Regions from separate parts of the Homo sapiens genome. Here region 1 is linked to region 2. Evidence: fine-mapped expression QTL. A gene starts in region 2. The other region holds a variant in brackets. All regions are shown on one strand. Distances are from middle to middle. Region 1 overlaps PTPN21 (protein tyrosine phosphatase non-receptor type 21). Region 2 holds the start of PTPN21 (protein tyrosine phosphatase non-receptor type 21).

What was found. PIP is the estimated chance that this variant, and not a neighbour inherited with it, causes the effect.
Region 1: its variant is fine-mapped to the expression of PTPN21 in cerebellum (GTEx, PIP 0.96). The same link has a PIP of 0.9 or more in fibroblasts.

Annotation. Positions count from the first base shown.
Region 1 is chr14:88,463,085-88,468,467 of GRCh38, reverse strand. It overlaps PTPN21 (protein tyrosine phosphatase non-receptor type 21), which reads left to right. Exons shown (of 19, transcript NM_007039.4): 19 at 203-2,690. The coding sequence ends at 331. It also overlaps a transcript of SPATA7 not described here. Among named protein-coding and RNA genes, the nearest start is that of SPATA7, 80 kb to the right of the region's middle. The variant T/C (reference allele first, on the strand shown) is at 2,672.
Region 2 is chr14:88,552,429-88,557,811 of GRCh38, reverse strand. It overlaps PTPN21 (protein tyrosine phosphatase non-receptor type 21), which reads left to right and starts at 2,805. Exons shown (of 19, transcript NM_007039.4): 1 at 2,805-3,161. LOC124903405 (proline-rich protein 2-like) reads left to right here and starts at 1,022. Exons shown (of 2, transcript XM_047432047.1): 1 at 1,022-1,049; 2 at 2,752-3,155. The coding sequence starts at 1,022. The coding sequence ends at 3,116. RefSeq lists a silencer at 2,798-2,847.

The DNA.
Region 1 (5,383 bases), 89 kb after region 2:
GTCTGCATGGACATTCTATTTATAGCTAAAACTAATCAGAAAATCAGAAGTAGGCAATCATGGCTTATTTCTAGAAGACGCTAAGGTGGAAAAGAGACTGTCCATCTCCCAACCAGGTTTCTGCCAGGACACTCGTGTCCTCCCATCCTTTCTGTCTCCCCAGGGGAACACATTATCTTCATTACCGTTTCTCTCAACCTAGGTGCTGGACATCCCGAGAGTGCTGGACATGCTGAGGCAACAGAGAATGATGCTGGTGCAGACTCTCTGCCAGTACACATTTGTGTACAGAGTCCTCATCCAGTTCCTGAAAAGCTCCAGGCTCATCTAAGCTCCCACAATTTCTTACGGGGCCAGTCATGTGAAGCGTTTACAGCTTAAAAAAAAAGCGCTTGCCTAACTCATACTTTCCCGTTGACACTTGATCCACGCAGCGTGGCACTGGGACGTAAGTGGCGCAGTCTGAATGGCGGCACGCTGAAGGAAACGTGCGAAGCACAGGCTGAAGAGGGGTTTCTAACCTGGGAAAGGTGCTCAAGGAGGACTTGGTTTCAAGGGCCTTGCCCTGCCCCGGTCTGTCCGGTTTGCAGTACTTGCACACATTTTGGAGATTGTATTTTCTAGACAATTCTCTATTTTACTGAAGCTATGCTGGGCAATTCTGGCAATCATTAAAGTGCATAGATTTCTATCTTAAACTAATTTTTGATAATGGAGTTTTTATTTTATGACAAATATTTAGGGATTTTTCTAGTGAGAAACAACTTTGTGTAAGGATGATCCACAGATATGAGTTGCTCCTATATAACTTTGTATTTAAAAATCATGTTATTATCTTTTGTTATTTTTTAAAAACCTTGGGTACTTAATAATGGTTTAGTTGCCAAACTGAAAACTATACTGAGAATCTGTGTTATTTTGAAACATCAAAAGGATTTTTCTATCCAGAACATTTTTTATCCTAAAAATTCTATATAGTTGTACCTTCTGTTTTTCAAATGAGAGCTCAATTCATTTAGATACTGAAATGAGTCAGTTAATGTAAAGTTGAGGATGAAGGCACATTATTTAAAATGTAAGAGAATAAGCATTATTTTTTCAGTATTATTCATAGATCTAAATGAATTTGATTTTATTGGTTGAAAATGAAGTGAAAAACAATTGCCTAGGGTGGTTTTAAGCACTTTTTTGTTAAAAACAAATCTGAGTTTTAATATATGTGTTGCTTTGTAGATGACACAATAACAATGGGCGCTGAGAAGCGTTTTGGGAGAGATTAAGGACTAAGAGTATGTAAGATGACTAGGACAAGAGTAGGTGGAGTGTGATGGTAAATGCAGGATGCCTTCGTCTTTACAAAAATGCAGTATTATCTATACTCAGACTGAGGTGCTGGGATGGCGAGCAGGGGACCCCACAGCACTGTCCCCAGGGAATTCAAGTCCTGTGACCGCCAGTGACTTACTCCGTTTCCTTGGGGCTTTTCCCACCTCAACCTGTATTGTTTCTTTTTCATAAATAAATTCAGCATTATAGTATCATTAAAAGAAGCCTTAAAGAGGCGTATTTTTCCTTTTGGTTGAAGGAAGGGAATAGTTAATAATAGTTTTCACCTCTTCTCCCAAAAAGTACAGTCCAAATTTGTGCACAGAGATTGCTGTGGTATTCAAGAGGTACTTGCATTTTAGCTCCTTAATAATTCCCTGGCCAGTGTTAGCTGTTTAGTGCCCCCTCACCCATCCCATTTAGGCACATCCCAATAGACAGAGCCAGGCTGAGTTACAGGGGGAGAGTGTCATCTCTGGCCCCGATTAAGATGGCCTTGTCACAGTGACCGCTGAGTAGGCATGGATGAGTGGGATATTTAGCTGAGGAACCCTTTCCCTTTTCCTTCTTTTTGGGGTCTCTTCTTACAGTGAACTTCCAAAATGTCAAATCTAGGGCTGTTTCCCAAATTACACTATTCTAGGCATCATTTTGATTCCCATGTCACTCCTTAACTCACTTCCTTGAGCACTACATGTATGTTGTCAGCCACGAGACAGGACTTCCTAAATAGTGTGTGCACCAGCCTAACTCTGCCTTACCCAGAAACCAACCACCTAAGAGGAAAACTCAGAAGATATTAATGAAAACTAATTGAAAGTACGCACACTTCTCATGTAGGAACAAAATTAAAATTTTACATTTTTATTTTACAAAATTAAAAAATTACATTTTGTAGGAACAAAATGTAAATTTTGTAAATACAAAATTCTTTTTAAAGTCCTGTTTAAAGAACAGTAGAACTAAGTGAAAATATTCAGAACGAGCTCCTTAGAAGAAAGGAATAAGAACTTTTTACTGGAACTATTTTCCATCTCTAGAAAAAGTGCTTCTTCCCCTCCCCCTCCCTCTCCATGGTACGTTTTTGTGAAAATGCTTTTCTGTCAGGTTTAAACAAACAGTTTGACATAGCTCGTTGACAAGAACATATTGTAAAACAAATCTAATTAAAGAGTAATATGTGGTCTATTTGTGTTCCTGTTGTAATAATTTGATAAGTAAACTTCTGAGGGCAAAATTACTGTTTAATATTACTCTTAAAATGTTGCATGTTTGGCGTCATTCCTAAGAGCCATGTAATTTTAAACTTTTAATTGCAGTTAGTGAATATGAAAGGATTTCTGAA[T/C]AAAAATCTATCCACATTACTGAGCTTTGAAATAGTATCATTTTCAAGAGCAAACTAGAACATTAAGGGTTCATAGGTTTACTGCCTCTGAAATGAGTATATTAATGTCTGCCAAACTTACACAATGCTTCATGTATCTTAGTGTCTTTTAATAAGAATTATCAAAATGTGCACTTCCACAAAACGTAGAGTTATAAACCACTGTTTTCCACTGATCAATTTTGGTATCTCTGGTATCAGTTTTCCTGATTAGTGGGGTCTTTTGATGAAATAGTTTAGCTTAGTTGGTAGTTTTGAGCACAGAAAGTACTCATTTTATTTTTTATTTTTGAGACGGAGTCTTGCTCTATTGCCCAGGCTACAGTGCAGTGGCATGATCTCGGCTCACTGCAACCTCTGCCTCCTGGGTTCGAGTGATTCTCCTGCCTCAGCCTCCTGAGTAGCTGGGATTACAGGCATGCACCACTATGCCCGGCTAATTTTTGTATTTTTAGTGGAGACGGGGTTTCACCATGTTGGCCAGGCTGGTCTCCAACTCCTGACCTCAAGTGATCTGTCTGCCTCGGCCTCCCAAAGTGCTGGGATTACAGGCGTGAGCCACTGTGTCCAGCCAGAAAGTCCTCATTTTAGAATATCATTTGGAATGCTTATTGTAGTCATTAATTTCTTCTGGAACATCTACTGTGAAGCATTCAGAAAATGCTAGAACTTAGACTTTAAAACCCTTTGGTCGAATTAGAAGCTGGGCCTGTGCTTCCTTAGAAACGTCCAGAAAGCAATGTCTAGCCAGAAACAGGAGGAGGAGGGAGGAGAGTGTGGTGTTGTGGGACTGAGTGGCGACAGCATGACGTGGCCAGCTTTTCTGTGAAGCTTTCACCATCAGTCATTTCAGAAGGGTTGAGATGTTAAATGTTCACAATATTAAGAAAATTTAAATATACAACTATGTACAGTAATATAAACTGGAGATTAGCTGCAGCTTGCCAAGAGCAGGTTTATTATTTGAGATTTGCATAAAGAAATGGAAACAGGAAATTATTGTAAATAAGACTTTTTTTTTCTTTTTTGAGACGGAGTTTCGTTCTGTCACCCAGGCTGGAGTGCAGTGGCACGATCTCGGCTTACTGAAACCTCCACCTTCTGGGTTCAAGCAATTCTCCTGCCTTGGCCTCCCAAGTAGCTGGGATTACAGATGTGCGCCATTACGCCCGGCTAATTTTTAATTTTTAGTAGAGATGGGGTTTCACCATGTTGGCCAGGCTGGTCTCGAACTCCTGACCTCAGGGGATCTGCCAGCATCGGCCTCCCAAAGTGCTGGGATTACAGGCATGAGCTACCATGCCTGACTGTAAGTCAGACTTTTTAAAGGAACTCTTTTGGATAGAAATGTAGTTGAATTTGCTTATCAGCAAGATTTCATGTGGAACAAGCTAAAACTATCCCTTTCCAGTTTAAACTTAATTTTTTAAAAAAAGAATCTAAATTGCAGGGTGCTTTCTTTTGAGCTGAGGGATGGACATTTCAAAAGTAGAGGAATAGCTGCATTAGAAATTTGCCTGGGAAAACATTTCTCAAAAGAATATGAGCTTTTCAAATTCCTGGAAATAAGAACTCCATTTACCCTACTATCTAAAATTATTTATAGAAAAATGAGGAAGGCCGGTCGTGGTGGCTCACCCCTGTAAATCCCAGCACTTTGGGAGGCCGAGGCGGGTGGATCACGATGTCAGGAGTATGAGACCAGCCTGGCCAACATGGTGAAACCCCGTCTCTACTAAAAATACAAAACTTAGCTGGGCATGGTGGCACGTGTCCAGCTACTCAGGGAGGCTGAGGCAGGAGAATTGCTTGAACCCAGGAGGCAGAGGTTGCAGTGAGCCGAGATCTCGCCTCTGCACTCCAGCTTGGGTGACAGAGCAAGACTCTGTCTCAAAAAAAAACAAAACAAAAACAGAAAAATAAGGAAATGTCAGGAAATTCAGATCAAAGTTTGCATGTCTACTTGGGTAGAGAGAGTTTTAGAAAACATTTGAAGTCCTTGGATTGTTAAAGTGGTGGCATAGTTTTCTGGGTATTTCAGGTAGTTCCCAAATAAAAAATATGCTCTAAAAGTTCACTTGTATGTTGACTTTTAGTAATATTTACCCATGCAAACAATACTCTTGGTGTTAGCCTTCTTAGTTTGTGCCCTCAAAGCTTACTGAAACCATAGGGGCCCTGAAAGGTAAGCAGTGGTACAGAACCAAACCGTATCTGTATGTGTTCTGTACTCCAAGAAATTATAGGGCAACTTTTCTCCCTACTGCACCCTGCTGGTGAGATCAGAGAATAAATACTCCTGTCGGGCAGTGGCAACCAAGACTCAGAAAGCAACTGAAGTTAAGTGTCTGTTTTATGGGAAACTTTTCAGAACGTATGCCAGCGTTTGTTGCAGAAACTTGAGCTGTGCATGGGTAAGGAACAGAATGGGCCTTATAATGTGAGCAGGGATCTTGCTAATGAAACTGTCTGAAGTGGGGCAGGGGGTGAAGGAGGGCAAATTGGCAAAACTGTCCCCTACCTTTCCTGTTGCCACTTATATGTCCTCCTTAATATTACTGGCTTGAAATGGGAAGTAAGGGATGGCCCAAGAAGGAAGGTGAAGGTCTTCAGCACCCAGCTGAAGGAGCAGCAGTTCCAAGGCAAATGCTATTATATAGAGGGTATCCCTAG
Region 2 (5,383 bases):
CACCATGCTATCAAAACAGATTAACTTTTGAACTTCTAAGAAAACACTAGTCAGTGCACCCACCAAACCACAATTTCCTTTCCTTTTTTTTTTTTTTTTTTGAGACAGAGTCTTGCTCTGTCACACAGTCTGGAGTGCAGTGGCGTGATCTTGGCTCGCCACAACCTGTGCCTCCTGGGCTCAAGCGATTCTCATGCCTCAACCTCCCCAGTAGCTGGGACTACAGGCATGCTCTACCACGCCCAGCTAATTTTTGTATTTTTAGTAGAGACGGGGTTTCTTCATGTTGGCTAGGCTGATCTCGAAATCCTGACCTCAGCTGATCTGCCCTCCTAGGCTTCCCAAAGTGCTGGAATTACAGGCATAAGCTACTGCACCCAGCCTTCTTTCATCTTTTTGTCTTTCATCATTTTATGTGCTGGGCTTTCTTTTTACATTTTATTTATTTTAGTAAGAAATAACTTCCAGTGTAAAAGTATGTGTAAGTATGCCACCTTCTGGATAACAAGAGGGGGTAAAGATACTTATATGTAGTTTCTTGTAACTCTGCAGAACATCTTTGTAAGGATACAGAGGAATGAGGGAACACTGGTTACCTCCCAGGAGAAGAGCTGGGTGTCTAGCAGGCAGGGTGAGAAGGGGACTTTTTACTTACACCCTTTTGTATCTTTGGGGGTGGCACCATATAAATTATCTCACTTCCTTAGATATGCAACACAAGCTAATAATTTTATGTCTAATATTTTGAAGGTGTTATTCAAGTGCCTTCCCATGAATGTTCCTGCCAAATTAACATAGCTGAGGGAAAATAGGGCTTAGGTACTTGGTCAGTAAATGACATCTGTGGACTGTGAGGGAGGAAGTTCAACTCAGTTGTCTAACATCTCTTGGGTTTTATGGTCATTTTCTATTTTTAAAATTCTTTTATTTTCTTCCTGATTCAATTAACAAGTTTTTATTTAGTGCCTACTCTTTGCCCAGTACTGTCCTAGGAATCCTAGGAGATATAAAAGAAGCCGTCATGAAACAACTTTTACAGTTCTTGCCAAGTGTGGAGATCACTGTGGAATGGTGTGGCTAGAAAGTCATCCTGGAAGCAGAGTCTTACTTGCAGAGAAGCAGAAGGCTTAGACAAGTGGAAAGAGGGCAGGAGGGGCTGCTGGCCAGGGGCAAAGCTTGACAGGGGCAGAAAGCGATATAGGTGGTCAGAGAGGCCCGTTTGGAAAGTCCCTATAGGTCAGGCAGAAGAACTTAACCTTGGGAGTCCATTAAGAGTGATAAGAGAAGGAAGCCTGGTATTAGCAAGGAAATAAGAGAGAACTGAGAAACCAGATGCCAGGAGACCACCCTTGTTGCAATAATCCGGATGTAAAATGATGAGGGTTTGGATTTAGAATGTTCCAGGGGGAACAGAAAGGAAACAAAGAATTCATGAGACATTTCAAAGGAGGAAATACCAGGTCTTGATGACAGGCTGGAGATGATAATGGGAGAAGTCACACATGATTCCAGTTTTTCTACCTTGGGAAGCCAGCAAAGTGACTTCTTTTTAGATCTCTTTTCTTTGCTCACACACAAATTGACCCCCTCATAGAGTTCAGTTGAAATATCAATTACAAACAGAATTGATCTATTTTTTTTCCCTTAGAAACACAGGTAATCTTATTTGCCTTTAGCTAAACGACCCAAGATGCACCTTGCTGGGCTTTGCTCTTGGATAGCACTCATACCTCTATGACAATGCTCCCCACTTTGGCCTTGTACTGCGTGTGTGGTGTGCAGGTGCGTTTATCACCCACTAAACCAAAAGTCCGTGTTGTGCAGGGACCACGTCTCATGCAGAGTTAAGTATTCAAAAGTTTTTGTTAATTGTTTAAGAAAATGAGATTTACATGAAACAATACTTTAAAAAGCTTTCCAGAAACAACAGCATTAAAACAAAATCACTGAAATTAAAATTTACATAAATTAAAAGGTTCTGTGTTCCACATGCCAAGAAAAGATCTTACACTATTGTAATAGTGGTAGGGTCACACAGTTTTATTCCTCAGCTTAAGTGCTGCAATACAGTAATAATGCAGTACAAGAATACTGTATAATAAACCTTAAACGAAACACTTCATATATACTTTACACAAGTTATTGGATATTGCTTAGTATTTATTTCCCCCACCCCTGCTGTGCAAAGATATTAATATCCCTCTTTTATAGGAGAGGAAACAGGTAAAGAGAAGTTAAGAAACTTGCACAAGGTCATCCAGCTAGTAAATGTTGGAGCTGGGATTTGACAACTTTGTCAAGTCTCCATCCTTAACAGTTCTGCTCTATATTGCATAAGCAGACAGCTCCCTTTTGGGGACTGACAGGTTATTTGAGGCATATGAACCATTTTTGGTGGGGGGGCTTTCCCACCCAGTACTGGAAGTGTCTAGTTATATGGGGCATAACCTTAGGAGCAAGCAGGAAAAGAAGAAATGTATTCCAATAGTGTTCAGAAATATACCAGAGTAAACGAATAACCATCAATAACAGCATTTTACAGCCTACCTAATAACACAGGAATAAAACCCTTTATCTGGAACCTAAATAATACCCCCTCCACTCATTTTATTAAAAGCCTTGCTTTATTTGGAAACTCTTAAAATAAGTGGTCATACGATTAAAAAAAGCAGCGGCGCGCCCCCTCCCCGGCGGCCGGGCGCAGCTGTCCGCGCCTCCCCCGCGCGGCTGCCCGCATTCCAACTCTCTGAGGTCACGGGCCGCCGCCGCCTCCCCGGATCCGCCCGCCCGGCTCAGGGGGAGGGACGCCTGGGCCCGGCCGCCCCGCTGCTCCGGCCGCGCGTCCCGCGTCGGTCCGACGGTCTGTCCGTCCTCCTGCCACCCCCCGCCCCCACGGGGCTTCTTTGTGCGGCGCTCCTCGCCGGCCGGTCCCACCTCCAGGCCTCGCCCCTCGCCGTCGCCACCGCCGGACTCTGCCCAGGGGAATGGTCTGCGAGCCGGGTTTTTGGAGACAGGAAGTGAGGCGTGCGAGCCCCATGAGCGCGCCGCGGCCCGGGCTGGCGTGCGGGTGCGGCTGCGGCGGCCGCGCGGCGGGGCCCCGGGAGGCGGGTCGCTGAGCGGGGCGCGCGGCCCCGAGGATGCGGGAGCGGGAGCGGGAGCAGGTGAGGGCGCGGTCCCCGGCCGGCGGGAGGGGCGGGCGGCTGGCCCGAGCGGTGGGGTGTGTCCACTCGCCCGGACCCCGGAGCGCGCCCGCGGCCCCGGAATCCCGGAGAATGGGGCGCGGCGGCCAGACCCGTAGCGGGAGCGTAACAAAGAGAAAAGTCTTGTTTTTCAGGTTCGCTCTCATATACTTGAGTAATTTCTAAAAGGAGTCTTGAACTTCTATTCCGAACGCCCTGGCCGATTGTTGCGGGTTAATTCTGGATCAGGGTTTTAAATGTGTTAGGCATATTTGTGCCTCTCAGAATATATAAACGTGAAATTCGCCAGATAACTTTGGCGAGAAGGGGCGCAGGGAAGGACTGTTTGGTAACGCCTGGGTTTGTTTTTGGAGTAGAGTATTTACTCTGGAAACAAGAATTCTTGGATCTGCAAATTCCGACTTGTGATTTCTGCAAATCCTGATTAGATTGGCCGCTCTTGGCATGCTCGTCCTATTTTCTTTTTTGCTGAGAAAGCCTTATACTAATAGCGTATGCTCACAAACACATTCAGAACATTCGTGTGCTCCAAGTGACAACTGCTGTATGCCTAATAGTTGCTGACAGTTTATTTATTTTTTTAAGTTTGGGACACGACAGTAATTTTACTCTGAATATAGTCCGTTTCGTTTCTAGGGCATTTTATTCTGGAGCATCTACGCACAGATGTTTTCTCCGTGAGAAACATGGGTTTAATGCTATAGCTATAGATATTACTCTAAAAATGTCACATACTCTCTCCTTTTAGTGCTTATTTTATTTTAAAGCAACTTTGGCAAAATTACATGTGGTAAGGACCTTAATAGGAAAGGGGAAACGCTGTAAGATTGAGAGGTAAAGTGTATTTGAGGAACTTTTGGAAAGGGTTGTAGAGAGGGAAAATTAAAATGAATTCACAAATAGTTCAGACTGCCTTTTGTAAACTTGTACTGAAGCAGAATCTAGTATGTATCTGTTTACTTACCACAAAACGGAAAGATTTTGTAGAGAAAAAATTATATCCTAGTTTTCCTTTAATAGCTATTTATAAATTATGTTTACTTTAGTAAATTATAATTCCAGACCCAATCACTTTCATATTATTGCATATTATTTTATACCTGAAACAGACCTCCCCAAAGAACTCTTAAATTTCTACTCATCTTGGTTTTATTATCTTCAGACATTCATAATTGTATTACACCATTTGGCAACAAATACTGCATATTACTGAAAATTAAGATGTATAAATCATTGATAAATTTGTAAATTATTAAACAAAATCATTGTTTTAACATAGTGGGTTTTATATAAATAAGCAAAAAGCAAGCCATTCTTATGGATAGATCTTGGGGGGATGCACCATGTACACACACACTGCAACTTTTTCAATTTCATCTACCAAAATAAGAGATAATTTTGACTTTTCCTTTATCCCTGATGCAGTAATACATTTCAAGTCTGAGGGACAATTGAAAGTTTTACTGAGTTTGCTTAATCAGAGCTTAAGTTAATAATTAAGTTATACAGTGTAGTATCTATTGCTTTCAAGGCATAGTTCTATGTAGTGAAAAGACTACCATATTTGAATGGCACCTAATACAAATATTTATCTTTCCTCTACACATATGCAATATCTTGTCTGTTCATCTACACTACTTAATCCGCCCGGTTTCCAGTTACCATAATTTTTATGTAAAATTGAAACCCACCATCTGATCTCATGAAAGGGTGTTTAGTATGCATATTTATAATCCTTAAATATTTACTCTTGGTTTATCAATTTTCTAGTTAAAAGCTTATTATTTAAAGTTGTCATTTGCTAATTTTTTTCCATCTTGCTTTACTTATTTAGTTTATACCCCTGAAACAGCAAAGAGCATTGAAAACTACTGGAAGTGGAAACCATATCTTTTAATACTTATTTTCTGTTTCCCTCCATAGTATGGTGCTTTTACCTACAGAAGGCACTCAGCAAATGCGGTTAATTAACACAGTGCTTTAGGTAGTTGCAGCGTTGTTTTTTTCTTCTGGCCTTCCCCTATCCCTTGTTTTTAATATTTTGATTTTCCTGGCTATGGGAAATAACCAGAGCTCAAAACAAACAAAAAAACTAGCCAGATAAAACCGTGGTTGGGTCCTTATTAGAGATACAGCTCTGTATGTAATTATAGCATGGTTGTAATCTCTTTAAAGACAGCGAC